Linked DNA regions of Homo sapiens. The protein of the gene in region 1 interacts with the protein of each later gene in a pairwise test. Each region holds a gene or a part of one and is shown on either strand. Other genes may lie near its edges. The genes, in order: CSPG4 and GRIP2.

The links.
Region 2: the proteins of CSPG4 (region 1) and GRIP2 interact in a two-hybrid assay, tested with the Homo sapiens proteins (one study listed by BioGRID).

The regions. Positions count from the first base shown.
Region 1 is NC_000015.10:75,697,744-75,712,715, reverse strand, and holds part of CSPG4 (chondroitin sulfate proteoglycan 4 precursor), read left to right. Parts: coding exon 1-48; intron 49-14,972. UniProt on the Homo sapiens protein: Proteoglycan playing a role in cell proliferation and migration which stimulates endothelial cells motility during microvascular morphogenesis. May also inhibit neurite outgrowth and growth cone collapse during axon regeneration.
Region 2 is NC_000003.12:14,532,798-14,547,758, forward strand, and holds the start of GRIP2 (glutamate receptor-interacting protein 2), read right to left. Parts: upstream 7,546-14,961; 5' UTR 7,512-7,545; coding exon 7,472-7,511; intron 1-7,471.

The DNA.
Region 1 (14,972 bases):
TGGCCTTGGCTTTGACCCTGACTATGTTGGCCAGACTTGCATCCGCGGGTGAGTGAGGGGCCTGAGACCCCGACCCAGCCTGGCGGAACTAGAGGGGTTCCTCCGGGAGGGAAAAGGGACAGGAGGAGCCAGAAGTGGCCCCCAGATCGGGAGTCAAGCAGGCTGCGCTTCTCCCACCACTAGCTGGGGTCGCCAGGGGTTCAATCCTGGGGCGGACACGGGACCCCGCTATCTCAGGTTATGGGGTTTCTAGCTAGCCAAGGCTGTCCAGTTAGGGGCGGGAGCAGGCGCCCCAGGCATGGATTGCCTAGGGCGTGGCTTTGCCCGTTTGGATTGTCTGAGACACCAGTGGGGCCACCCCAATGCTGGCCGAGCTTTGTTTGCCAGGCAAGTTTGGGGTGAGTATGTTGGGGTCCAAAGGGACCCGGCGACAGTGAGAAGTGGGTCCTCCAGCTTCAGATGCCCTGGGCCAGGAATGGGGAGTGCTACAAGGTGGGAAACGAGGAATGAGCCACCCTGCCCTCCCCTGTGAGGAGCACCCCCACACCCCTCCAGCTGCCCCCCAGCTCTGCCCCTTCTTTCCTCCCCTTGCTTCCTTGCAGATCCGTCTATCTGCCACCTCCCCTCTTCATTCTCTCCTCTCCCTCCTCCTGTTGGTGACAGGCAGGACCCCCCACCCACTACCCACTCTCAGCCTCCTAGAGGGAGAGCTGGTGCCCCTCAGCGGGGCTTGTCCTACAGATAGCTCTGGACCACCCCCTGCCACACCTCCTCATCCCAGCACTGATGCCTGACCCAGCAGAGGCTGAATGGAAGTTCGCTTTCCGAGAAGTGCTGGGATATATCCCCTCTCTGTCCCGATGCCAGAAACCCCAACATGACAGCATTCTTCCTTCAGCGAAGGCAGCTCTAGTTATGCCATAAGAACTGTGGCCTTAGGGCCCATCCATCATCACTACCCACGTGTGATTCAGTGCTTCAGCTACACCTTCGAGATCATTCCCAAGAGCAACATGGAGCAAAGGCAGGGCCTGAGCCTCCTTCACAAGGGCCCAGGCCACACCCTTCTCTCCTTCAGATGGAGAAGCCAGCTCTAAAAGAGGGCATCACATGGTTCCCAGAAGGGAAGTGAGTCAAGGGAGGACCCCCGCGGGGTGAATCAGGGCTGGATCTCCAGGCTCCCTGTTCCTGCAGGGACCAGATCCCCTAAGATCTCAGGGCCTGAGGGATGGGCTGGGCCGCCAGGGAGATGGGAAGGGAGCATCCAAGGTGACCAGGGTGGTCAGCTCATTCAGGCCCCAGCCTCCAGCCAAGGAGGGATTCCAGTACCCCCACCTCCTTGGGCTTCAACTGAGAGCCATTCTCAAATACCTTCTTAGCCCTGACAGCATGCAGGCATGGTGCTAGGCTCGCAGGGGCACGGGAAATTGAGAGGCTGAACTGAGACTCATTCAGGAGGCAGAAAGGCAAATTAAATCTCAAACAGCAAAAATCTGGATGAAAAGTACAGAGGGGAGAAAAGCAGGGGCAAGCTGGGGCAGGACACAGGGTGGGCCTCAAACCAAGCCTTGGTGGATGGGAAGGGAGTCAGTCCTCCAGGCAGGGGCGCTGACTCAGAGGCACCAAGGTGGGCGTAAGCAGAGGGGTGTTGAGACAGGAAGGCCAGCAGCCTGGCTGGGAGGCGTATTTCGAGCACAGGCCAGGGAGAACCACTGGGCTGGGGCACAGAAGCCTTAAATGGCAAAATGAAGCCCACGGCCTTATGCCCTGTTGGCAAAGGAGATGCCACAAGGGTTTTAGGGCAAGAGAGCAGCATGGTGCTGTGGGGTTTTATAAAGTTACACCATCCCCTGCCTTTAGGAGGACTCGGAAATGAGGAGGGGCTGTGAGAGCTCCCGTCCAGCAACCCATCTCTGTCACCACTCCTGGTCCAGCTGCCTGCCCTGATTTCTGCAGTAGGGGCAGCCCCTGCCTGAGGAAGGCGTCCCTCCCACCCCTCCTGGATGCCCCTGGCTGCAAAGGCCCTCGTCCTCCCGTATCCGAATGAGGCGTGCTGGGAGGCTCTCCCTCTACTCATCAACATTTGAGGCATCCAGGTCAGGGGGCCTGGCAGTCAGCACCCTAGAGGCCATCTGGGCCAATCTTCCACTTGTATAGAGAGGGAAACTGAGGCCCCAGAGAGGAAGAAAAGTACTCTGAGTTCCACCAAGAACCCCAGCAGCCCAGGAAGAGCCCCCAGCCCTGCTTCGAGGGTGCTCCCAGCCTGCGTCGGGGCCTAGGCTTGGGCCACTGAGACAGTGTGGGTGACAGATGCGGTGTCCAGCTCCTTCTGAGCTGTATGGGAGGCCCCAGCAGAGAGCCAAGCATTGGGGGAGATTGGATTTGAGCTGATACTGGAAGGACAGGCAGAGAAGGAAGGAGGTGACATTCTAGTCGGGGGGTCACAGTGAGCACAGGGCAGGCAGGGGTGGTGGCTCCCACACCTCTTCCCTGGCATCACTGACTGAAAGGCAGAATGTGAGGGGTTGAAGTGGGACCCAGGTTGGGGAGTACCTGGCAGGGAGGGCTTGTGTGTTACCTGGGTGGGGACTCAGAACTGATGGGGGTATCTTAGTGAGCAGGGCCACAGGGACACCAGGTACAAGAAATTGAAGCAGGGTAGATCCTGCTGCCTCTGAGGATGGCTTGGGGGGACCGATGGTGCTCGGGACAGGCACTGAGCCTTGTGTGCACCTTGTGTGCCACCCCAGGCCTCCGGAGCAGGGCAGGGCCCAGGGGCCAGAGCCCTTGGCCCAGCCCACCCGGACTCGAGAAAAACTGTTCTAGAGCAAGTGTAACGGAGCCTCCCTCCCTACGCCTGCCCGCCCGGGCAGGACAAGAAGGGCCTTTTAGTGCTGCCCGCCTGGGGGGCCTGGGGTGGGCCATGCCAGGTGGGCCAGGCGGCTGTCGATGACGGCAGGAGGGGAGTAGGGTGCGTGTGGAGCTCTCAGAGGAAGTGTATAGGCTGTGTCTGGGAACTGGGCGTGCTGCCCAGGAGGGGCGGGCAGGGGAGGGGGAGTTGGAAATAGCCTTGACGTCCGCACTTACTGGCGCACACAGATGTGGGCACACACACTTGCACACGGCCACTCTCACAGACCTGGACGAGGTGGCTACTGCCTCTGTCTCCAAGTCCCCTACCTTAAAGATCTGGGCCAGTGGCACTTGCGGGGAAGGAAGTGAGCACAGGATGGGGACAGGGGTGCCACCTGAGGTGTGTCTTCTATTCAAGGCCAGGGGCAAATGAACAAGGGGCCTGTGGGCATGGGACTGAGGCCTGGTCCCTCCCTGGTCCCTCTGCTCCTTCACTGCCTTTCCCCCTGACTCCCGCCCCATCCAGCTCTCCTCTTGCCTCCAACATGCCCTCCGCCCCAGCATATGTCAGTTCAATAGAGCCTTCCAGAGTTAAGGCTCTTCCTCCAGCTGCAGGCTTAGGGCAGGTTTCAGATTTACTGTATTACCATTCCTACTGAGTTTGTATGAGGAATTTTTGAATGAACTGAATTTGTATGAACAATTTTGTACTTGGCTCCTCCGTGGGGCAAGGGTTCCTAGCTCTCTCCGCTTCTCAGGAGGGTCCGTAACTCCAAACAGGAGAGGACAGAGCTGTCTTATTGCTGTGCTCTTACCTTCAGGGACACCCCATAGTGTGCACTAACCATGTTGTTAGTCCTGCAGCCCCACAGCAGCCCTGCAGGTCAGGAAACAGTCACTGCAGCCTCAACCTCCCAGGCTCAAGCGATCTCCCCACCTCAGCCTCCTGAGTAGCTGGGACTTCAAGCATGTGCCACCACACCAGGGTAATTATTTTTTGTAGAGACGAGGTCTCACTATGTTGCCCAGGCTGGTCTCGAACTCCTGGGCTCAAGCAAGCCTCCCACCTGGGACTCCCAAAGTGCTGGGATTACAGGTGTGAACCACCATACCTGTCCAACAGTCCTATTTTACAGATGAGGAAACTGAGGCTCAGAGAAAAGCAGGGACTGCCTCAGGTCTCTCTTTGGGCACACAGGCCGTGGTGTTCTCACTCACCCCAACAGCAGCGAGTTTCCCCACATCAGGCCAGGTGGACAACCACCCACCAGTGGGCTCAGGCCCCAGCAGGGGAAAGAGAGAGGTCTGCAGGGACAGACAGCTCGCTGAGGACTCCAGATGTTTGTTCTGTCTCCCCATCCCCCACCAGCCAGCGTTCTCTCCCTTTCCAAACCCTCCCCACTTTCTCACAGCCTAAGCAAATCCCCTTCAAAAAACCCTCTCCCCCCAAAGCTAGGGTTGCCAATGAAGCCACTTTTGTCTCTGATGTAGGGTGATAGCTGTAGGGCTGCTGTCAAGGTGGCCTGGTGGCAGGGGTGGGCCCCATCAGGGACAGTGCCTGTCCTGTTGAGCATTCCTGCCTCTCGCTCAGCTCCTTCCCACACCCAGGCCGGCTCCCAGCCTGTGGAGGAGGCCGCTGGCTCTGCCAGCCCTGGCATGCATGCGTTAGCCAGGCCTCCAGCCATCGCTCCTGCTTCAACACTTCAGTGTGTGGCTCTCCTGCGGCCTAAGGTTGAGGTGTGTCAGTGACGCTGCCTCCCTTCCCGGAACTTACTGCAGAAACCCCTGACCCCAGACCAGCCCCCCATGGATCCTGGGGAAACCCGGGCTCAGACAGAGGAGCCTGCTTGTTCAGAGTCACACAGTGAGTCCTCAGGAGATTAGGGGGAGGGCTCCCTACTCTTTGGCCCTGGTTTGGGGGGTAGCTTCACCCTCAGGACCAGCAGCTCCCCGGGAGCACACATCCCACCTGCTTTGCTCAGGGGTCTCCCCCATTGTAGGGCTCACAGCCTGGCCCCCAGAGGGGTGTAGAGATCACTGAGCCAACCAGGGATTTTCTGACTGCACTCCAGCGCACCCCAGGGCTCTCCAGCTGAGCCGGCCTGGAGGCAGCTGAGCTTGGGAATATGGGACGCCTGCCCCACCCCAATTCATGCAGAGCCACTCCACAAACCTGTTTATAGATTGGGTTCCATGAAGATTGGTACTAAGGGCCCTTGGAAGATGTCCTTCCCCAAGTCTGGGAGCCTGGAGGCCGGGAGCAGAAGGTGGTCCCAGCTTCCTCACAGCAGGCCTGGGGCTGTGTGGCCTCTCCTGCCCCAGCTTCCCACTCCTGCCCACTGCCTGCTGGCCCTCACTCCACACTGGCTGAGTGTCCCTTATCTGAAATGTTGGGGACCTGAAGTGTTTCAGATTTTGGAATTTTTTGGCTTTTGGAATATTTGTTATATATAGTGAGATATTTTGAAGATGGGACCCAAGTCTAAACATGAAATTGATTTATGTTTCATATACACCTTATACACATAGGCTGAAGGTAACATTATAGATTTTTTTAAAGAAATTTTGTGCCTGAGAGAAATTTATGTTAAGTTCTTATGTGTGGAGGCCAGGCGCGGTGGCTCACGCCTGTAATCCCAGCACTTTGGGAGGCTGAGGCAGGCAGGTCACCTGAGCTCAGGAGTTCGAGACCAGCCTGGCCAACATGGTGAAACCCTGTCTCTACTAAAAATACAAAAATTAGCTGGGCGTGCTGGCGACACCTGTAATCCCAGCTACTCAGGATACTGAGGCATGAGAATCGCTTGAACCTGGGAGGCAGATGTTGCAGTGAGCTAAGATCGCGTCACTGCACTCCAGCCTGGGTGACAGAGTCAGTGAGGGTTCATCTAAAAAAAAAAAAAAAAAAAGTTCTTATGTGTGAGATTTTCCACTGGTGGTATCCTATTGGCACTCAAAAAATTTTGGATTTAGGGGCATTTGGATTTTGAATTTTCAGATTAGGGATGCTCAACTGTGCTGTGCTATGTCCTTCTCTCCCCAAATATATCATCCTCCCTGGTCAAGGTGATCCTGTGTCCCACGGACTGGCTGATCAGATAGAACTAGGCCATCAGATAATAATCCACAACCGCTGGCACCTTTCCACTTCTACTCAAGCTGCTCCATGCAACAGGCCTTCCCTTTTCCCCCATCCTCCAAGGCTCAGCTCCAGTATCGCCACCCCCAGGAGCCTGTTCTAACCACAGATTGCTCTGAGACCCATGACCTGGATGGCCCCTCTCCTGGGGCCCTGCCCTCCATCTCTGTGGGGTTACAGGCCTTTCTTCCCCTACCCTCACCTGGCCTCTGTCCCCGGTTCATGACCTTCTTCAGCCTGACACCCAGTAAGTGCACATGCGTGTGTGTGCACACACACACTCACACACACACATACACATTCACACACACATACATACACTCACACATACACACTCACACACACGCAGTATTGCTCAGTAGGCAAGGAGAGTGTCCTGCCCCGAGCCAGCAGCCCCAGGGAAAACCCCCAAAATCAGGACACAGTGCCTCGTTCCCCCGCCAGGGCAGGCCCTCTGGCCTGGGCCAGTCCACTCTCTGGGGAGACAGAGGGGGCTGGGGAGAGGAGACGAACTTCCGTTCCCACCTAAGAGCAGCCCCTTCCCCCACCCACATTTCAGGAAGGGGCAGCTATAAATACCAGTGGGACCAGGACACTGATTCCCACGACACCCGCTTCTCCCTGCCCCTTCCCTGTGCACAGTTGCTGGGGCCAGACCAGCTCTCCTGCAGCTAGAGTCCAGCCAGGCAGGCCTGAGGCCTAGCCACACACACACAGAGACACAGACATACGCACACAGGCACACACAGACATAGATACACACAGACATACAGACACAGACACATGCACACAGACACACATACGCACACACACACGCACACAGACATATACACACAGGCACAGACACACACATATGCACACAGACACATACAGACACAGATACACACACACACTTTTACTTCCCACCCTGGTCAAGGAGGAGCAAATCACCCTTTTTGGGAGTCTGCGAGCAGCTGAGAGGGAGCCCCTCCCCTGCCCCTCAGCCCTGACCCAGGCCCCATCTCTCCCTCCTCTGAGTCCTGAGCTGTGGGAACCCACACAGGGAAGCAGGAGGCCAGGCACATGGTGGTGAAACACGGCATTAGAGAGCTCAGGTTGAATTCCAGCCCTGACGCTCTATGCATGACCTTGGGCAAGTGACTCTGTCTTTCTGAGCCTCAGTTTTCTCCTCTCTAAAATGGGGATAAATAATTCCAACCTCTTACGTGTTGTAAGGATTAAGCAAGACACTTTGCCTGGAATCAATGCTCGGTGGACATCTGCTCCTGAAGCTGCAGTCACTCTGCTATTAGCATCTTCTTCCCAGGGTGGAGTGGCCCGGCAACATGGGGACTTCTGCTTAGGAGTGTTTAAGGAAGATTCCGAGGCAAAGGCCTAGAGGAGGTGGCCCCGTGAGTCTGTGTGGGACTAAGTGACATGGAAAAGGAGAGGTGGGCTCTGGAGAGGGTATCAGCCAGCGGCTGCCTGCCAGCCCAGGACCCTTCAGAAGGTGGGAGGGGGTGGGGGTCTGCATCTCTGTGGCTAACTGGGCTGAGGCCCACACCCCTCTCTCAGTGCTAGAAGAAGTGGGGACAGCCCCTGCCTGGCCCTCCCCAGGGCCTGTTTCTCCCAAGCCTAACAGCCCCTAGGATGGGGCTCACTGGGCCGGGGCACAGCAGGAACCCCCTGTCCCCAGAGCAGGTGAGTGAGGAGAAGAGAATGAGCAGGCCCCAAGACCTTTTATGGGACGGGGACCCTAGAAGCCTGTCTTTTCCCTGCTCTCTACCAACCCCTCGCGAGTCCCTCTCTGGAGGTGGGGGCTGGAGGCCAGGGCCCAGGGACGTGGGACAGCTCACCTGCCAGAGTCACCATGGGGCTGTTACCACCACTCATGATATAAGCAGTGGTGGCTGCATCACGAGGAGCAGAAATCCGGACTGAGGGAGGGGACAGCCCTCTCCGCTCTGGGCTGCTAGGACCCCTCAGTGGTATGGGTGTATGTGAGCTCAGAGTAGGGGGAGGTGTGGGGAGGTGACTGAGGTGACTGCAGAGTGGGGTGCACAGCTCGGGGCAGGGACACTGGAGGGACCCCGGACAAGGGCAGGCCTGTGCCTGAGCCCTCAGGGCAAGATCCCATTGTGCAGGCCCCCACTGCCTTCACCCACGTAGAGGTGACTCTTCTCCACAGACCCCTGGACAGGGCCCGGCCAGGCCCCCCACCCACATGTTTTAATGGAATCCAGGTGGCTGCCCCTGGCCAAGGTTCCATCTCTGGGCATCTGGGGCCCGTGTGCTTCTGGCCACCCATCTGGAGCCTGGCTGAGCCCCTCCAGGGGTGGGTACTCAGACGGGGGCTGTCCCTCCAACCGTGGACAGCCCTGGGGCCAGCGAGATATTGTAGAGGCCTGAGCCAGCTGGCTGATGGTGCCACAGCCCTTGGGCTACCTGGCCCTGCTATGTGGCCTTGGGGAGACCCCTGGCCCTATCTGGGCCTCTGGGTGGAATCTTCAGTCTCCTAGGTCAGCTCTAAATTCTGAGCTTGAGCCTCTTGGGAACAGGACAGGGGCCTCTGCCTCTATCTAGAGAGAGCCAGCTGCTTGTCCTGGGCCAAGCAGCAAGGCAGGCTAGGCCTGGAATGGGGCTGAGAAGCAGCCCAGCCTGCCAGGACTCCCTGGCATTGGAAAGCCACTTTCCTAAGTTGGCATGGAGCCCTGGGGCTCCCCCCGGGATGAGAGCAGCGGCTCCTCTCCACCCCCGGCTCCCATCTTCCACCCCCTGGCCCCAGCCCCGCCCTGCCAAAAATAAACCCAGACCACCCCATCTTGTACCAGCCAGACCCACCCAGCCCCTCCAGAGCCAATTGAGTCACCACTCAGAGCTGCTCCTTTTTTAACTGTCTGAGTCACTGCTTGTGGCTCCATGACACATGCCCCAGGCTACGGTTACCCCACAGCCCCTACAAGCGCAGCCAAGGGAGGGGTCTGCGTAGAGGCTGGCAGCAGGTGTGAGTCCAGGCCATAGCCTTAGCTTGTGAGCCCTCCAGGCCTAGGGAACTCACTCCATAACAAGCCAGAGACCAGACCTGTCCCTCAAGGTCCCGGCCGTGCCCAAGACAGCCCTTGGGGATCTTGGTGACAAGGTCAATCTGGGCTCTGCCCCACCGCATTGCGTTGCCTCCAACAGGCCTGGGCCTTCCCCGTGGAGACTGCCGGGAACGGAGGGTCTCCAGCCCCTAGACCCTGGAGGCTGGGGGTGGGCGAGGCCACAGAGACGCCTGCTTCCTCCCTCCTCACCGGCTCCACCCGGACTCTGACCACGCTGCCTGGAGCACCATGAAGACTCTATGGGACGGAAGCCACACTTCAGTCTCCCCTCACGGCTTCTGTCTGCCCCTGCGCAGGGTCACCCGGGCTGCAGAGCACCCCCGATCTCTCAGTCCATCCCCCCATCCCGCTCTCTCCATCTCTCTGTCCTTTCCCACCCCTGGCTGTGGTTCCTCCATCTCTTTCTGTCTGTCTTTCCTACCCTGTCTCTCTGTCTGTCTGCCCATCTCTCCAGTCCTGCTCTGTTCTCCTTCCCTTCTCCTTTACCGGGTTCCACGGCAGTCAGAAGTGCTCCCTGCCGCCAGCACCCCACCCGTCCCCAGGGCCCTCTCTGCCTTCTCAGTAGACATAACAGACCCTCACCTCCTCCCATTCCCACAAGGGACTCTGGGCCCCAGGGACCAATCCTGAGAAATGTTCCGCTCCCCTCACCAGGTCCTCCCGTGCCCCAAAGTGCAGGCTACATCCTGTCCCAGGGAGTGTCAGGATCCCACAGGCACTTCCTTGGGGGTTGACAAAGGCGGGCAGGGGGGCCTGGGAATGGCCCCACCTCCCAGTCCATGCTAGAGCAGGGGCCTGTAAGCCTCAAACCCCATCCGTCTTCTGTCTGTGGCTGTGGCCTCCGGCTATAAATAGGGGCTCGGATTCTATTTTCTTTAAAAACAAGCACCAGACTCTGTCACCACAGGCCCAGAAAAGCAGTCTCTGGCTCTGGCAGTCCCTCGAGCCCTCCCAGGCCATAGTGTCCAGTCCCCTGCCTCTGAGCCCTGGGGCTCTGGAGGGCAGAGGAGGCCTGGAAAGGAGACTGGAGGTAAGACAAGGTGGGGAGGGCTGGGGCGAGCTCCCAGAGGCAGCCCCTCCCACTGGGCCCATGGCCCTCATGCCCTGGTGGGCCCCTCCCTCCTTTCCTCCCACGTCCTGTCCCCAAGCAAGGTCAGTCTTGTCCCCAAGGCTCACAGTGTAAATGGAGAGAGGTGACAACAGCACAGCCCCCTGGGCCGCAGCGAGTGTCTTTGCACCCCAAGGACACAGAAGGTGCTTTGGGCTTTTTTCCTGAAAGAGCATGAGGACATTTCACAGGTGGACAGGAGAGAAGAGCTGGCCCAGCAGCAGGCCCAGCCTGAGCGAAGGCAGCAGGTCGGCCCTGCTAGGTGTGCACGGAGTCAGTGCAGAGTCTAGTGAGACGGAGGCGTGGAGTGTCCTTGGAAGAGAGCAAGAGACCCTGCAGGCAGAGTTGAGGGCACCCTGGCCTTCAGTGCCACCCGGGGGTGGGGGCCTGACCCTGGGGCAATGGGAGCCACCAAAGGCAAGGGAGGCTGAGGGAGTGGCTTTCAGTTTGGGTTAACTGGGGCTGCTATTAGCAAAGGGAGTCAGGAGATTGATTAAGCCAGACCGAGGACGGTGGCCAGCCGCCTTATGGATGGACCAGGGAGCAAGAGAGGAAGATGAAGTTGAAGGAGAATTTGGGGACTGGATGGATGGAACCTGAGTATTAATCAGCAGTGGCTGTGGGGAGGGAGGAGGAGGAGAGTTCAGTGCGACCCTCAGATGTCTACTCAGCAACAGGTGGACAGTCGGGCCTTCACGGGGCTGGCGAGCCAGCTGTAGGGGAGAGTACACTGAGTCCTCCTTGCTTTGGGTGGGGTTGGGCTTGGGGGTTCCTGTGGGTGTTCCTGCCATGGACATCTGAGGGACACTGGCAGTGGGCCTGGAGCCCTGGAGAGTTGGTGCCAGTGAGAGAGACGTGGTGCATTAGCAGAGGCTGGGCCTGAGGCCGGGAGAGAAAAGGAGGGCCAGAGGGAGTGTGGTGGCGGTGGGCACAGCTCCAGGGGGGGCCCACAGGCTGCAGGCTTCCAGGCAGTTGGCAGGTGGGGGTGCTAGGCAGGAACCTATTCCAGGAGGAGTCAGGCCTGCCCAGGAAGAGAGGTCTCAGTCTCGGGATCTCTGATGGGCCTGGGTAGCCCAGAGCTTCACTAGCAAGGACACTGAGGTTTCCTGGTGCACCCCCCGGCAACGCCCTCCCACTGGAGCACCACCAGTGCTGGGACTTGCTGTGGTGGGACAGCTCTGCCTGATAGAAAAACCCTCACACGGGACAAATGCCATCTCATTTGATCCTTTCGTTCCCTTAGATGCTGACATCACCTCCCTCATCACAGGTCCATGGCCTTCTTGCTGCACAGATGCCCTGGGAAGGAGATGTGGGCCCTGGTCCTGTCCTCAAGAGCTTCCAGTCTGGCTAGACCTGTGGCCATTTAGGCCAGAGGTGGCTCTACTGTACCCACGGTAGTGGCCACACCTCTTGCCAGTCTGCTGGGCTGGTCAGAGGCCAGATGTGTGTCAGTCCCTCTATCCAGGTCCCCTTTTACAGATGGGGACACTGAGGCCAGGGAAAGCATGGAAGCACATGGCTCTGAGCCCTGTGTGTGTGCTGGGGGTGTGAGCCCTGACCCAGGCTTCTGCCCTGGACATGGACTTCTGTCTGTGGGGTGAGCCCACCCTCTGTATTCAGATGGGGGAACTGAGGAGGAGGCACACAAGGCTACTGTGCACAAGTTGTGCCACCAGATTTCAGGTCCAGGCAGCCGTCCAGACCCACAGTCACCATTTCCTCTGTTCTTCCCCCATCCCAACTCACACACTCACTATCTCCAGACCCAGCCCGCCAGGCTGGGGAAGCCCCGAGACGCCGCCCCAGCAGCCCTGTCTTCAGCAGTTTCTGCTGCCAGAGCCAAGGGGAACTCAGAGATGAGCCATGGGCTGCCTGGTCCTGGACACAGCCCAGGAGAGAGCCTGGCCCTCAGCCTCCTGGGGGCAGCTCCCACCCAGACCCCTGTCTCTCCACCCTCCTCCCAGACCTCCAAGTCACCAGTGGGCAGGGCTGGCACTTATCACTGGCTTCTGGACCTAGTCATCCCCCGCCAGCCCCTGCAGAAGGGCCCTCCCGATTCGGCCAGCCCCAGAGCCACAGAGGAGGGGCTGCCAAACCGCCCAAGGAGAGCAGATGCTTCCCTCCCCTCCTCGCTGTCCCCCCCTCCTCGCTGCCCCCTCCACCCGGCCCTGACAGAAGAGTCCCAGGGGACAGGAAGGGAAAGAGTGTGTGTTCCCCAGGCTGGGGTCCAGCTCTCACACCCTCCTCCCACTGGGGCCATTGGCAGATGCTCCACTTCCGATTCACAGGCAGCAAGCAAACCCACCACGCCTCTCTGGGTGCACACACGGTGCATGTGCCCTGCTGACACCCACAGCCCCTAGCTCTGGAGCCACACCCACAGGAGCTTAAGTCCCAGCCCTGCCGCTGCTCCACAGGCTAGCACGGAGGACTGCCCTCTCTGAGCCTCAGTTTCCTCACCTGTAACATGGGAGATGCCTCCCAGGAGCCCTGCTAGGGCTGGGGGGCTGTGCAGGCCCAGTGCCAAGTGAGGGTCCTTCACTCTTCTCTTCCCTGCCAGAAACCCTACCCCAGCCTGGGTCCACTGAGGTGAGGGTCCCAGGTCCTCTAGGGCCAGGAAAGTGGGGGAAAGGAGGGTACGGATGGAGCCTGGAAACCCACCCATCTCCCTGTCCAAGAGGGAAGATTATAAGGCAGGGAAAAGCCTCTTGGAACCGCTCCCCACCGCAGCCACCCCACCCTCCTCGCCTGAGGCCTGGGGAGCAGCAAGACTTCCACAAAGACACCATTGAGGCCCCGCTTCCTCCTCCCCCGGCCCAGCCCTCCCGCCTGGGTGGACTCTGGGCTGCTTCTTCCCTCAAAACCTCTCATTTCCCCTCCTGCTTCCTCTGTGCTCCACAAGGCCCCAGGGTTGGGACATGTGGCTGGGAGCCCAGGGTGCAGCCCCTATCAGCCTCTGTGGACCAAGCTCAGCTTCTCCCACCCCACCTGCCCCTGCTTCCACTCATCTTCCAGACGGGTTCCCTCAACTGGAAATGTTCCCCAGCACATGCCCCTCTACGTGGGTGACTCAAAGCGCTTGGTTAGAGGATGGTAGCTGAGGCCAGTGACCAGGGTCAGGGCCCAGCCAATAGCTGAGGAAACTGTTTTCCTCCCTGGCCCCCTTGGCCTTGCAAGGGACCAGAAAGGCAACTAAACAGAAGGTCAGCTGACCTGAGTGTGTGTCTCTTGGCTCAAGAGTTTTTGGTGCTGCCCTGACCCCGACAGAGGTCTCTGCAGCATTTAGACGTGGAGGCAGTCACCTGAGCAGGTGCCTAGCACTCCAGCACCCCACTGGGATAAAGCAGTGTCTCCTGAGATGATGGCTGCTGTTGTAAGCTCCATGGGATTTGGAACTAACCTACTGTTGTCCGCATTTCGGTAGCTCACGGGACAGGAGAGGAGCAGGCAGTCCTTGGGCCGCGGGGATGGCCCTGGGTGGTGGAATCCCAGTCTGGAAGCAGCCAGGAAGAGTTGCTAAAGAGCAGTGAGCCCTGAGGGGTCTGCAGGTGTGTGAGCGTCTCCCAGGCAGCCCACCCTGGCCAGTGATGAGCCTTCTAGGCCTGGGCCCTGGTGACCCCAGTGTCATCACTGGGCAGGTCGCTCCCCTTAGTCTGACCTTAAGTCTCCCCTGTAACCTACCCCCTTGTTACCCTCAGAGTAACAGGGTTGGGTGAAGGTGATAGCTCAGTGTGGGTGGCTGAGCCTTGGGGAGTCTGCTGGGAGGAGGTTTGAGAGGGGCTCACCCCTGAGTAGGCACACCAGACAGCTTCTCCCTTGCCTGAGGAGCCCAGGGAGACCAATGTGCTGGGGAGGGGACCCCCAGTTATGTCTCGGTATCCAGGGCCCACAGTGGGGCCAGACCAGGGACCCAGCGCACCCCTTCCTCGCCTGCCTTGCCGCCACACACGTGTGTACATGTGACACTGACCCACATTCCTGCACACACTCACCCATGCCCTGCCTGCTTGGTTGGAAGTAGATTGGTGGCGGAAGTAAAATCGGGGAGTCCCTTGGAGGTGCAAGGGGAGGGGAGGGGAACTGACCTGAGGTCTAGAGGGCCAGGTGACCTCAGGGAGGGTCCGCTGCTGGGGAAGCACACCTGGCCCGTCCATGCTCTCACAGAGCCGGCATTCAGCCCCCAGGTGGGCCACGACCACCCCCCGCCCCACCACATACACACCTATGAGGGGAGACAGAGAGCCCTTCATCCCGGCCTTGGCCCTCCCAGAATACCCCATCCCACAGCCCCCTCAGACTCCCTCACCCCTGCCTGCCCAGACCTGGAGCCAGGATCTCCCGCCGTGGTGCCAAACCCCGAGGGGCGGTGATGGAGAAGTCTGGCTTCGTCTTGGAGCAGGGCCCTCCCTCCCCAGCAGGCTGGCTGGGCATCCCCTCCTCACTCCTGTGCACAGCAGCAGGCTTGCTGCCAACATCCCGCCTTCTCTGTCTCCCTCGAGTTTTCCTCCTCCGTCTCCTTCCTCAGGCCTTGGTCTGTATGTGAATCCAGTCTTTATGGAGGAGGGCATCTTGATTTCTCCTTCTCAGTTTTAATAACTTTCTCCCATGTTAGCTGTCTTCTTCCATTCCCATCACTGTATTGCTGTATTTGTGATTGAGTGAATGAATGAATGGGTCTCTATTACGCATTCCACCTCTCACCTCCTGCTCTGTCTCTGTGGCACTGGGTGTCCCTCCCCCACATACAGATGTCCAGGTCTCCTGCCCTCACCCTCAACTACGGGCC
Region 2 (14,961 bases), on another chromosome or scaffold:
TTGAGGGCGGGGCTCAGCCTGGCTCCGGGCCGGATACTGCTGAGTTGAGGGCGGGGCTCAGCCTGAGTCAGTGTTGCTGGTCAACTTGGGCCTATGGAAGCCTGACAGCGTTCCCACCTGCAGCTGTAACCATTGAGAAAGGTCCCAGTTGCCAACTACCGTGCTCCGCCAGACCAGGGCTGGGCTCTCTTTGCTTGCCAGCAGCTGATAAATAACAAATCAAATAGCAGTTAAGCCAGGAATCATTTCCAGGTCCCCTGGGGTTGGGTCCTCAGCAGCTCCGCTCATCCGCCTTCCACCTCCAGTTCACATCAGCCACCACGGATTCAGGCGACACCCCATTAAGTATAATGCCTCCCATTACGGTTTCCTAATACGCACTTCATTTAGATTCAACAAGATGTTTCTGAGCTAATAAAATCAAAAAGACTGGGTTCTATCAACTGTGTGACAGTGAACGTCTCTGGTATTTCAGGAGGGCAATTCTGGAATTAAAATACGTCTTATCCTGTGCAGATTAGATTCTGTCCCTGGAAAATCCCTCTCTATCTCCAGCTGTCTTGGGAAGACCAGAGATAAGCTTGCTAGCTCCAGGTTTATGAATCCTAAGAGAAAAGTGGGGGAGGGAGAAGGATTATCTCTTAAGGAAAGGATAAGGAAGCCAAAGCCCAAGTTCACCAAATTCAGAGCAGTGGAATCCCAGAGTGGATGTGGAGCTGTGAGCCCTAATTGTAAAAACAAGTCAGAAATTCAGACGGAGGAACAACGGCACCCCCAAGAGCTGGATGCTGAAGCACAGGGTGCCCGATGTTGGCTGGCGAAGGGGGGGACCCATGCCCTGGGTCTCCGTGGTGCCCTCCAAGTTTGTCTCTGACACTGCCTGTCTTCCCTTTCCTCACCCCAATATTCAGATTTTGCTCCAGTGCACTACCGGGTGCTAAAGTGGGTTACAGTGACAGCTTAGGGACAGCGGAGGTGCCGGAGTCTGCTGGTCTCAACACCGAGTGGCTGCAACTCCCTTCCTGCTACAATTTTTGGCCGGTTTGGGGTTCAGCCTGTGAGCCATCTCTTTTCCCAGCTGTCAGAGACTTGACTGCGTGCTGCAAAACAAGTCATACTACTGTGCGCAAAGAGTCAGTGGGCAGCAGGCGAGGCCTCGAGAGACTTCCCTAGGCATCTCAGGGTGTGCCCTTGGTGGCCTCTTGTGGAAGTCAAGAAGCCATTCTTGATAGGCGAGTTGCCAGATGAGAGGCTTCTGAGCACCCAAGACCCCCTGGCATAGTCAGAAAGGTGCCCGGAAGGAATGCTGCAGTGTTTGCTGATGCCTATTCAGAGGGGACATAGGGCCTCTCTTTCACGAACATCCTCAGATGGGGGGGAACTGAGGCAGCATCCAAACCAAGAATCAAAATAGGGTTAGAATTACAATTGGCTGTGTGACTCGAGCCTCCATTTTCCCCTCTGTAAAATGGGGGTGTCTCTCCCATGGCTGACTCCAGCTGGCCAGAGCTTGAGAAGTTGAGGGGATTACTTTATTTATAGAAAACCCCTTGGGGGGGTCAGACCCTAGGCCCCCTCCTCAGAGAACATGCTTGCTCTCTCCCACTCTCTCTTTTTTGTTCCAGGACCTGGTAATTATATGCTTAGAGATGAAGGCTTTTCAAAAACATCTTTCCCACCAATTTTCAGCTGGAAACGTGCATAAAAAACAGAGATATTTTTATCCATGTTTTTTTTTTTCCCTGTCTCCTCCTTCCAGCAACGGGCAATTATGAGCTTTTGCCTTCAGTCAATCGTCCTGTAGGAACTCGCTTCAGAGGAAAATTCATTTCCGCAGTGGTGCCAGCCAGTCCCGGCGAATGTGGGGTGTGCAAGTCAGGGGAGGAGGGACAGAGGGAGAAACGTGCTTGGAGCTCAGACCTGTGCACCTGGTACTCAGGCCCACGCTGCAGCCGGGGTGGGTGGCCTTCTTTTTTATTTTATTTCTCTTGAAATCATGGCTAATTTGCCTTCATTATCTCCCGCTCTCTGGGGCCTCAGGGGGCTATTGAGCTTTGACAAAGGGAAAAGGAAGTCAACTCCTTGCCAGGCTGCCTTCGCCAGGGTCCTGCCTAAGCGGGTGGCTGGAAAGAAGCGTGGGGGAGTGGGTGGGACTATAAAGTCAGCCGGCTTTGACTGCTGCCCTGTTCTGTGAGCCTCCTGGAGGGAGGACTCAGCATCTCAAAAGGGACCACTGAGAAAACAAATGCCCAGAGGCTCCACTTGGGGCGAACAGGACATGATTTGCAGGGACGGTGAGCTGTCGGCCAGGACCATGCCAGCTCACCGGGACCCTGGGTGCTGAAGAGGACATGGGCGCTAAGTACTCCACCAAGTGACGGTCCAGCCCCAGCCAGCTTCGCCCCACCATGGAAGGGATTGTTGATATGGTGGGAAGGGAGGGATAGGCTTTGGAGTCAGTCCAACTTGGGACTTTGATTCTAAATCGGCTGCCAACTGGCTAAGGGATCTGGGACAAGTCACTTCTCTCTGAGCCTCAGACTTCTCCTCTGCAAAATGGGGGTACTGGTGCCCACCTCATGGGTTGCTGGGAGGAACTGTGGGGAAGTGTGCACAGAAACCATAAAACATGGCAGTTCCCTCCCTGCCTGCTTCCCTCACCTTGTTGAAAGGTTTTCCTAGATCAATCATGATGATGGCTCCTAGTGATTAAGTGCTGGTTTCTGTGCTTCCTAAGCACGATCTCATTTAATCCTCACCACTTTTGAGGCGGTATAATCATGATTCTCATTTTACAGATGAGGAAACTGAGGCACAGAGAGGTTAAGTGATATCCCATGATAAAGGGCAGGGCCAGGGTTTGAACCCAGGCCTAATGAGGCACAGAGAGGTCAAGGGAACTGCCCAGGGGCACAGAGCTTCTAAGTGGCAGAGCCAGGATTGAAGCCCAGGCCTTCTGGCTCCCTAAGGGGTCTGGCCCTACCCTCTGGGTACCTTCCTGCCTACTCCCCCATCCATGCAAGCCTGGAAGTTGCTGTAATGCCTGCAGCCCCGGGGCTGTTCGGCTCCAGGCAGAGCCCCAGCTCCTTTGGGCGTTCCTCCCTGGCCACTGAGGGCTGGAACAGGCCAAGGGCTCGATGGAGATGCCTCAAAGCCAGTTACAGGCTGACCTCTGAATGACAGTTCCAATCCCCACGGGCGACAAGCCTCCCAGGAAGCCCAGCTTCCATGGGGAGAGCAGCATAGAAAGATCAGATAAGCTCGGCAGAAGCACGTTTTTCAGGGAGACAAAAAGAAATGCATCAATACATTTAAAAATTTGAAGCCTCATTCATTTGTTGCCAAGGATTGCAAAGAAAAAAATAAAGAACCTTAATAAGTAGCACCCAGTGTTGGGCCCTTCCCTGGGCCAGGCCTGCTCTAAGCACTTTATGAATGCTAAGTCAGTTAATTGTCCTAAGAACCATGGAGGGAGGCTCACCGATTGTCCCCAGTTTACAGATAGGGAGCCTGAGGCCCAGAGAAGCCACTGAGCTGGTGAGCTGCAGAGGCACCTGGAACCCAGGGCTCCCTGACCTCACAACAGACCATGCCCTGAACCCTTGGCTCTGCTCTTTCCCTCCAAACAGGAGGGCAACAGACCCCAAATGAGAAGCATCAGGGCACTGGGAAGGTGACAGCTCCAGTATCCCAAGAATACCTAAGTTAGGGCTCAGGCACTCACAGGCTGGGTGCATCAGGGCTAGCAGGACCCATGGCATCACCTGGAGAGGCCGCCACCCCCACAATCCTCCTCCACACAGGGAGAGGGGCTCCTGTCCAGCAGGCCTGAGCCACACGCAGGCCAACATCCCACCATGGGAGAGCGGGGGCGCAGTCTCAAGTTGGGGGTTGGCCTTCTGCGTTCTGGGTCCTGCTCTCCTGCCCTACTCTAAAACCAGCAATGTCAAGGAACGTGACCTCAAAATCAGGGTCACCCACAGAACCATTCAGTTTCCCAATGGCGGCTGCCTGCAGTCACAAGAAGACTGTGTCTAGCTCAGGGAGAGTAGAAGCAGAAGTCCTCACCACAACTGTCAGTCCCCGGTCCCCTGACTTCACCTCCTGATGCTCGCCCTGGCCAGCTCCACTCCAGCACACTGCATTTTCTCACTTAATCCTCATAACCACACTGCCACTTGGGCACTGTTATTCTCCCCATTTTACAGCTGGGAAAACTGAGGCATGGAGATGCTAAGTGACTTGTTCCTGGTTACACAGCCAGAAGTGACAAAGCGGAGATTTGACCCTATGGGCCCACCCCACCTTGGCAACTGCACTCTAAAGGGAGGTGAAGCCTTCCTGGACACATCTGTCCTTTCGACCCAAGGCCCACCAGACTCACATCCCCCTAGGGCCTTTGCATCGGCTGTTCCCTCTGCCCACAAAACTCTTCCCCAGACATCATCAAAACTCCCGTCTCAGCTCCTTCGGGAACTTGTAGAAATGTCACCTCCTCAGGGAGGCCTTCCCCATCCGCCTGTTGGAACTTACACACGCACCCTGTACCTCCACACCTCCTCTCCACTCCCTCCCTGCTTCATGTTCCTCTGGGCAATCAACACCATCTAAATATTTACGACTATTTTTACTGGGATGTCAGCTCCAGGGGGCCGGGCTTCTGTCTGCCTGCTCACTGCTGTGTGCAGCGCACACATTGTCTGGCATGTAGTACATGCTCAGCAAATATTTTTTTAATTCAATTCCCATTTACAGATTAGGAGAATGAGAATCAAAGAGGTGGAATGAGTTTCTCAAGGTCAGAGACTAGGAAGAGACAGAGCCAGGACGCAAACTCAGGCGAAGGATCCCCCATGGCCACAGCCCCTGCTGTGGAGTAGGAGGCCAGGCCTGCCTGAGGAGTCTCAGAGCCAAGGGGTAGGCCTGGTGAGGGCCCCTCGGAGGAGTGGGTAGCCCAGGGCACAGCAGGGGGACCTTCACACATGTACACCCACACCCACTGAGACTTCCCTGCCCCCAGCATGGCAGCAAGTGCCTGCTCAGACCTAGCAGGCCTGGAACAAAGATGTCTTTGTGGCTGCGGAGTCAGAGCAGGCCTCCCGTCCTCAAGGCAGGAGAGTGAACATGGAGAGGGACTTCCTGCCAAAATCTGTGTTCAGGCCTACTGTGTGCCCCAGCCTGGGCCAATGGAGATAGGTCACAGTCCCTTCCTGCCAGAACTCTGGGGTTAGTGACAGGAAAGCAAGACTCCCTGGAGTGAGACGACATGCCCAGGGTGTGGGGCCTGAGAAGGGACCCACCCAGAGTCCATCAGGAGCAGAGAAAGGGCATAGGGCTGCCTGGTCCACAGAGCCCAGCTCCAATCGGGGCACTCACTGACGCACACTGCCAGTGGGCTGACTTCTCAGGGCTGCAGTCTTCTGTGCCAAATGTGGAGGTATATGGCTGTCCTTACCAGCAACAGGGGAGGTCACATGACCAGGCCTGGCCAATCAGAGGCTCAGCGATCCATCAGGGGTGGGCATGTGATACAAGTTGGACCAATGAGAGCCGTTTCTGGGGCATTTGCTGGAACTACTGGAAATAGGCTCTCTTTCCTTAGGGATGACTGAGCTGGTTGACCTTAAGTTTGAAGGTGCCAGGAACTCTCAAGGAGAGGAGAGAGTCTGCCTGGAAATGAAGCTCACTAAAGTGAAGCAGAGCAAGCTACGAAGAGACCCAGAGTCCTAATGATGTTAATTGAGCATCTGGATCCCACTGTGCCTGAAGCTCCATCTTTACACTTTTTGGAAGAAGAGCCTTGGTGCTGATGCAAACTGAAGCAAGTGTGATCATGAGGTTCTGTGACCTGGGGAGGAGACCTAGGGTGGAGGCTACAGTGGTGAGGGTAGAGGTCAAGTAAGTCATCAGAGAGAGAAAATGTCAGAGAGGTCAGGAAGGGCCTTGAATGCAAGGCTTAGGAGCTGAGCAGATTTGTGTTTTGGCAAGCTTCCTCCCATGGCAGCAAAGGGGTGGAGGCCAGGCCAGGGAGGAGACTGGGCAAAGGCCCAGGCAGTTGATGCTGACCCTGGGCCGAGGTGGAGGTCACAGGCCCATGAGGAGGGGGAGACACCTCCCTGGCAGTGCCCCAGGTAAGGTCTCCAGGGCACTGCTGCCTTTGTGGCCCTGACCACAGCAGACCAAGGTGACCCCACTCACCTGGGCCTTGGGTTGAAAGAACAGATGTGTCCAGGCCAAGAAGGCAGAGCCTCCATTTACAGTGCAGTTGCCAAGGATGGGTGGGCCCATCGGGTCAAATCCCAGCTTTGTCACTTCTGGCTATATAACCCTGAACAAGTCACTTAGCAGCTCTCTGCCTCAGTTTCCCCAACTGCAAAATGGAGAGAATAACAGTACCCAAGTGGCAGTGTAGTTATGAGGATTAAATGAGAAAATGCACAGAAAGCTTAGAAAAGAGCCTGGCCCAGAGGAAGCTCTCGACAACAGCCAGCTATTATGATTATGAGTGTTATTTTTCCTGGGTCGCTAAGGCTGGGTCCAGAGGTGACCTGGCTCTGCTCCTTGCCATGGGAAGGGAGGTGGGAATCAAAGTCCACTGGGCCCTCAGAAGCAGGGCTGGGGGCTCTGCAGTAAAAGTCATCGGGGTGTCAATCCCAGCTCGGCCACTGCCCTCCCTGAGCCTTGGTTTCCTCCTCTGTCCACTGGGACCACAGTCCTTGCCCTTGGAGCTGTGGTGCAAAGATATGTCAAGAGCGTGGGAAGAAACCAGTGAGGCAACCCCAGGGCAGTGAATGCAGTATGTTCTGGTCCAGGCCCCAAGCTCCCTCTTTGGAGGAATAGGGTGAGCCCAGGCTGAGGCTGGAGAGACAGATGGAACAATCGTGTCTGCCCCTCCCCTGGGTCCCAGCCTCAGCACACCCAGGAATGTGGCAGCTGTGATCCCCCATCCCACACATTCCCAGAGCCCCAGGGGCTCACCAGTCAGACCCCCAAACCAGAGTTTCTCCTCCTGCCGAGAACCAGTCTCCTGCCCAGCTGTGCCAGCACAGGAACTCCTCACCACCACCTTGCCCATGGGCCTTGGGCTCTCACCCCTCTGGGTCGGACACTCACTCCCACCAGGCAGCTGTGCAGATCCTGAGATTGGGCAAAAGGCTTCGCTCACACCCAGATAGGACCAGCCTTCCCCCTACAAGGCTGAGCACTGCCCTCGGAACCTCCAGACCCGCCTGTTCTGCCTGCCTGTGCTGGACAGCCCTGGGGGAGGCTCAGCCATCCTGCTACAGGACAGTGGCCAGGGTCAGACAGACAGCCCCAGCAAGTGTCCTGCCCCACCCTCCCCAAGCCCTGGGTCTCCAGGGAGTGGCAGTCCCAGGTCTCAGCCATCCAGTCCCCTCTCTCTGGGCAGCAGCTCCAGAGGGATCTATGTGTTCAGCCCCATCACTCTGCCCACAGACCCCCCATTACGTACCCGCCTCTCCAGGGGTCTCCCGGCTGAGCCCACACAGCATGTTCGCTATTGTCTCCCCTGCTGCCCACCAACTCCCTCGGGAGCCACGCTGCTTGGCCCTCCCTCCCCTCCCCAGGGAGGGGCTGTGGGAGGGAAGCTCACAGCTCCCACTGGCTGGGCACCGAGTCCACCCACTGCAGCGGGCGGCTCTCTGCTTAAAGGGGACATGGCTATTGTCAAGGCTGGCTCCAGGACAGGGTCCAACATGCCCCACCCCTGCAGCCTGGGTCTGGACAGGGGGTCTTTGAAGGTGGCATGCCTGGGGCTTCCCCCAGGGCTCTCAGGCAGAGAGAGAGCCTGCTTCTAACTTGCCCTGGGACTTTGGCAAACGACTCTTCCCTCACTAGGCATCAGTTTTTTCATCTGGAGACAGGGAACAGTGCTTTCCAAACTTTTTTTTTTTCTAAACGGCAGATTCCAAGAGAATTTGCACAGAACCCCAGGACATAAGCTAGATGAAGCACAGACTCTTTGACTGCATGAACAATGCCAGGGCGTCTCTGTAGGTCTCAGCTTAGAAACCCTTGAGCTTGGAGACCCTCCAGGGCCCTCCCACCAATGTTCCAACTACCTCTCCTAGGTATCAGTTTTCCCTCGGTAAAATGGGACTTAGGAAAGATGAACCCGGCAGCCTGCCACGTGGAGTGGCCACCCAGCTTTTTGTGAAGACCAAGTGAGCTGGGTGGAGGATCTGCCCGCCTCTGGGCTTGATAGGCAGGGCCAGTTGGTCACAGGCTCCAGCCACACCTGGCAGGCTCTGCCCCGTCCCAGACCCAGCTGGGCCTTAGCCTTGCACACTCCTGGGATTCCTCCACATTGGCTCAGGACTGACCAGGCTGATCTTAATGGACACCTGAGGCTCCTCCTCTACCTGTCTGTGAGAAGGGGTGGCAGGCTGCACCCAATTTCCCCTGCCCTCCATCCCACCAGTGTGTGCTGGCACCAACTGAGGGTCAGACACCAAGAAGGGTGGGGTGATGGTGACAGGGCACTGAATGGTGGATGTCAACAACCTGTACAACTGCACAGTGCGTCTGGCAACAGAGAACCAGACAGACAAGGCCTGGCTCCCATGGAGTTCCTGACCGCGTGGGAACACACGAGCCTCATATTTCTTCCATGTGCCCTGCAGCTAGTGGGAGAGGGCTGCCCGGTAGTTAGGGACCCGAGGTTTCTTGTGGGTTCCCTCCAGAACAGTGACCCCAGCATGGAATTTAGCCACAATTCCTGGGCCGCCCCACACTGGCTCCTGCCAGCCCAACGCTAGTGGCACCTTTAGAATAATCCAGGTTCTAAATCTGGGGCAGGGCTACTTGTGCTTTTGTATCTGCAAACTCAAGACCCTGCCCTGCCGCCCACTTCCTATGGTGCCTTCCTCTTTGGGCAACTTGAGATCTGTTTCTGGGGGAAGGGTCCAGGTGCCAGGCAAGTTTCCCTTGACCAGCAGTGATGCCAAGGTCTCAGCCACAGGGTGGGTGGTGAGGGTCAGATTGCAGAGGGAAGACCTGAATTTAGTGGACATTTCCTGGACGACTCAAATCATGCAGGGACGGGGGTACACGCACTCAATTTGGCCACCGGTACCCTGGCAGTGGTCAGGGAGAGGCTCGCCATGAAGACCCTGGCCTTCACCAGGGCACAGAGGCCACTCTGGAGCAGTCTTAGCTTCAACCACGCGGGAAGGAATGCATGTGAACTGCTCTAACAGATCCTCACCCCACTCGCCTCCATTCCCTCCATCTACAGCCTCTTCAGTCAGGGAGGACAGGCGCATGGCACCCAGGCAGTTGGAGTTAGATCTGCCCCTTCTTTCTCCCTCTTTCTCTTTCTCTCTTTTTATTTTTTATTTTTTTTATTTTTTTTTGTGACACAGCGTCTCACTCTGTCACCTGGGCTGGAGTGCAGTGGCGCAGTCTCCACTCACTGCAACACACTGGCTGGGCTCAGATGATCCTCCCACCTCAGCCTCCCTGGTATCTGGGACTACAGGCAGGTGCCACCATGCCTGGCTAAGTTTTACATTTTTTGTAGTGATGAGGTTTTCACCATGTTGCCCAGGCTGGTCTCAAACTCCTGTATCTGCTCCTTCTCAAAACAAAATTTGCTCTCCATACAGGTGCATTTAAATGAGTGATGAAGATTGGCAATTGGAAGCCTTGCCTCATTTCTCTGCTCCTTCTCTTAAAAAAAATTTGCTCTCCATACAGATGCATTTAAATGAGTGATTAAGATTGGCAATTGGAAGCCTTGCCACATTTCTGTCTCTCTCACTGCTCCTTTGGAGTTTACTTTTGTGGACCCCCAAGCTCCTGGAAAGGTCATGCCGTGGATTATGGGAGAGCTTCTGTGGCGTTTCTCTGAGTGCTTGCCATGCTATGCAATGTAGGCAGATGGGAAACAGCATCTCCCCTTTGCCCTCTGTCCTCGACACCCTACTGAGCACATTTTCATTTGATTTTATCCAAGTGCATGTTCAGAAGCAATTATTGGCCCATTTTGGAACAAGACAGAATTTAAATAAATAACTTGGCACAGAGAGGTTAAGCAACTTGCCCAAGGTCACACAGCTGGTAAGGATGGAGCCAAGTTTCACACTCAGGAGGCCTGGCACCAGCACCGCTATTCTTAATGGCACTGCTATGGGCCTCAGGATTTCAGGGATTTGTAAAGCTTCTGGGTGTGCAGAGGAAGAGGAATTAGCTCTGTCTGGGAGTCCACTGAGAAGGGTTTTTTAGACTGACTTTGAAGGATGGGAAGGAGTTTGTCCACGAAGGAAAAAGCCATTGCACGCGTGTGAGTCCATGGCCGAAATCCCACATGACTAAGTGAGGAGACAAAGAAGGAAACAGAGATACAGCCAGGCCTGGGGTGGTCTACTAGGGTCTCGCTCCTCCAAGTGCAGTCTGAGGACCAGCAGCATCTGCATCACCCGGAGCTTGTCAGACACGCAGATGCTCGGGCCCCGCCCAGGCCCGCCAAATCAAAAGCTGCATGTTAAGAGGGTCCTCAGGTGATGCATATGAAGTTTGAGGAGCGCTGTATTAAAGAGTTTGTCTTTCATCCTGCAGGAAATGGAGAGCTAAGGATAGCTGTAGTGCAGCGGGGTGAGACAGCTTTGCAAGCACCTCAAACACAGAGTGCAGGCTGACAGTAGGTGAGAGAAGGATTTCCGTCTGGGAGGCGGCCTAGGAATGAGCAGCAAGGGCTCCTTCTAGGACATGAGAAGAGGCAAAGCTGCTGCTTGATCACCCTCCAAAGACGATCCTTCTTGTCCAATGCTGCCAACTTCAGGGAAGCAGAAGAAAAGGGGAACAGATTGCCTGGGCATGCAAGGTGGCTGGAAGCCAGGCCTGCCAAGCACCCAGGCCACCAGGGGCTCCTGAGGACAGCATCTGACTGCCCCATGTTTCAAATGCTGTGGGTGACATGCGAGGGGGCTGAGCAGCCCAGGGGAGATGGCAGGGCCACTGAGCTGGCAGGCAGCCCCTCTTTGGTCAGGAGGGGCCCTGACACTTCCATGTCCCCAGGTTTGTGAGACAACTGGAAGACGGATTCCTGTGTGATCGGGGCACTTGTCCAAATCTCTCTGGACCTCAGCTTCCTCGGCTGTAGAATGAGAATAATAAAAACACCTACCCTCTAGGGTTGGGAAGACCACGTATTAATGAAACAGAAAGCATTCATCCACCCACTTGCCCGCCAAAAGTCTCAAACTAACGCCGTCAAATAGGCCAGAAACAGAATTTCAAGGGAGCTAAGCACACAGGTCAGACATGCCCAGGTTCGAATCCCAGCTCCACCACCCACAAGCTGTGTGACCCTAGGCAAGTCACATCTGTCTGAGATTCACTTTGCCCCTTGTGAGGAGTGAGGATCAGAGACCTTGGAAGCGTTTTGCAAACTCACGGTCACCACATGCTCTTCCCAACGCAGGGCCAGGCCTGCAGGTCCCTCACATTGTCTCTCAGTGGGGCACCACTGGCACTAGAGTTGGGGCATTCTGCTTGTGCGGGGCTGCTCTCACACTGCAGGGTTCCTAGCACCCCTAGCCCCTCCCACCCAGAGGCTAGTGGCCACTGTAGTTGAGAACCAAGCCCATGCTGCGCAGATGGGAAAACTGAGACCCACAGAGGGCCTTGTCGGGGGTGCCCCACCAGCACAGCGAGGGCCTGGACCCAGGCCTCCGTCCTTCATCTCTGACTCCAGGGCTGAGTCCGTCATAACACAGGCGAGCCTTGTCCTGAGCCCACCAGGGGCCCTGAGTGACAGCCGGAAATGAAGTCTGGGTGAGAGGGAGGCAGCAATGGCAATTCAAGGACAAGAGAGATAAACCTTTATTGCTCTGGGCTGTCCGTTGCTTCTTCCTCCGACCCTCCTCCCTCCACCCCAGGGGCCGGGCCAGGACAATTGCTCCCTCCCTGCCTGGTCCTCTCAGAACCTGCATCTTGTTGTTAAACATTTCAGCCAGGTAGGCATTATCGTACCCATTTTATAGATGGGGAAACTGAGGCTCAGTCTGGGATTCCACCAGCCACAGGGGAGGGGCACTAGGGGACCCCCTCTTAGGGGGCGCTGTTTGGTCTTGTCCTCACTCTGTCCAAGGTATTCCACATCTTCCCCAGCCCTCATGGCCCCTCACTTGACTTCAGGGAAGGCTGGGAGGAGCTTCAGGAGTAGTGCCACCCAGTGGGCTGCCCCAAGCTGTGAGCCTCAGACCCACAGAGCCTGCCAGCCTACAGGAAAACACGCAAGGCCACAGGCCAAGGAGGCTCCGACAGCCGCAAGAGCAAAGCATGGCAGCCGTGTGGACAGGCCCAGGAGAGGGGGTGTCCAGAATGTTGGGAAGAGCCACCGTTAACATAATCGGAGCAGAGACTCCACGCACCAGGCCTTGTGACCAGCATTTTGCACACATTTTCTCATTTCATCCCAGGAACATCTCCACTTCAGAGATGAGGAAGCCAGGGCCCAGAAAGGTAAAGCCACTTGCCCTTAGGCAGAATGTCAGGGGGAGCCAGGGTTTGAACCCAGGCCTGCCTGACAGCATCCCCACCCAGTGGCCCCGAGAAATGCACACACCGAACCACTCTCCACAGCCCAGGCATGTGAACACAGAGTCAGGAGGGCCAACGCAGCCAGCCAGCGACAAACACATGTTGAGAGGGGCTGGGAACCCCTGACTGGGCAGGGTCAAGTCACCAGCAGGCCAGGGGCCTGGCCACGGATGGGGCAGCTCCCAGGGGCTCCCTCTTGGGCTCCATGCTTCCCTTGACACCCACAATAGCTTCCCTCCTGGAGGACAGGACATGGGAGCACAGCTGTACAGTGGGCCTCTCTGAGCCTCAGGTTCCTCCTCTAAAATGTGGATGATGAAGTTGTCTGTACTAACAAGGTCTTTGTTGAGAAGCTCAGTGAATGAGCGAAACACCTAAAAAACTATAGCATGTGGGCACAGGGAGATGGCCAGCCTGATCATGGCCCTGCCCTGTCTCTCTGGTTACTTGTTCACTCAGAGAATATTTACTAAGCACCTACTACCTTCCAGAGGTCAGCTGGGCCAGACGTTTCAGCAGTGAACAGAGCAGGCAGACCCTCCTTTCTTAGAGCTTCTGGTCTAGGGAGGACCAGAGATCCAGCAAGAAAGACAGACAGACGGACAGACAGAAGGCATTTGAGATGGTCCCGAGGGCTGTGACAGACACAGTCACGATGTTGGCACAGAGAATACAAGGCAGGTGGTCAGGGAGAGGCTCTCAGAGTAGGCGACCTTTAAGCTGAGCCCCAGGTCTCCTTCACCAGCATCTTCACACCCCGTAGGGACCTGTGGGTGGGGTAGAGGGAGGGGACTGCTCTGCAGTAACTGCCTGGAGCTGGATGAGAAGGCACAAAGGGAGGAGGAGGTTCCAGGTAGGCCGACCAAGCTTGGGTACCAGGAGCAGCTGAGGGGCAGGTGCAGCTAACGCACAGAGACAAGGTCGGCCGAGGCCAGGGAGAGGAGTTGGGATTCTGTTGAGTGTGAGGGGAGGGTTTTTAGCAGGGTCGTGCTGTGACCTAACTTCTATTTTGCAATGGCAACTACCGGGAGTGGGCTGCAAGGGTCAGGATGGCACGGGGGTGAGGGGTCTGAGGGAGGAAATGGGCCAGGCACTTGAGAGGCGGGAGATCTGGAATCCAGGTCCCTTCTGCTCTGAGCCTCATTTTCCCCTTCAGTTGAGCATCAAAGCTCCTCTAATGACAGCCAATAGGGCACGTTTGAGGAATTGCCAGTGGGAGAGGTCAGAAAGCATGGAGTCAGGATGTATCTTGATGCAAAACAGGAAGAAAAAGAAAAATGGGCACCAGCTATAAACAGGCGAGGCACAGGGCGTGGAGGGCAAATGACCCCAAGTTCATGCAGAGGTGTCCCAACTAACTGTCACCAGAGAAGTGAAAACAGAAACAGCGAGCTCCCACTTGACTCTCCTCAAAATGGCAAATGCTGGAAATGCAGACAAAACCAAGAGCCGGTGAAGATGTGGGGAGATGGAGATGGAAAGTCACAGCACAGCTGGTGGGGGGTAAACTGAGGCAGCCACAGTGGCAGCACCTGGTGGTGTTAGGAGAAATTCCATGTCTGGCCACCTGTGTCCCAGTACCCTCACTCCTGGAAGTTATTGCAGAGTAATTCCACCCCCTACCCAGGTCCCTAAGGGGCATGAACTCTTGAGAATGTTGGTAAAGGTGACCTGGGACTCCATCCTAGGGTAGGGGACAGGTAACGTGGTGACTGCACACCGTGTTGTGTGACACAGCAGTTAGAAGTGCAGCCACATGAACAGATCTTAGAAAACCTAGTGTCACATTAAAGAAAGAAAGGAGGGGAGAAAGGGAGGGAGGAAAGATGGAAAGGAAGGAAAGAAGAGAGACAGAATGAGATCTACCCCGTGGTATCATTTATGTATTGAAATGTGGTGTCATTATGTATCGAAAGCAGACACATAAAGCACTATCTATGCTGCAAGGGCACACACAGACGGAAAGACCTGTTTCACCTATTTCAAGTGCAAGTTTAGAGGGAAGGAATTTGGGGTGGGGATAGGGCATGAAGGAGAAGAAATAAGATTATACAGAGCCAGATCTGGCGCTGGGATGGCCCAGAACCATGTGTGCTTTGAACTGAGAAATTTAGCTCAAGCTTTGGAACTTGGAGTTCAAAAATTAAAAATAAATAGGTGCCTCAAATGGCATGTTAGAAGTTGGAACTCTCTCCTGAGGATGCTGCTGGAAGAGTTTGGAGGGAGAGAGGGATAGGGTCAGCTAAGTGTCTTAGAAAACTGACTTGAATGGGTGCTCAGAGCGCTCCTGGGTGAGGGGTCAGGCCTTGCTGTCTGTCCACCCTCCCCATCCTCCTCCCCTCAGGGGCTGCTCTGACTGTCCACCAGCCCTCTCTCTGCCTTCCTAACAAAAAGCAA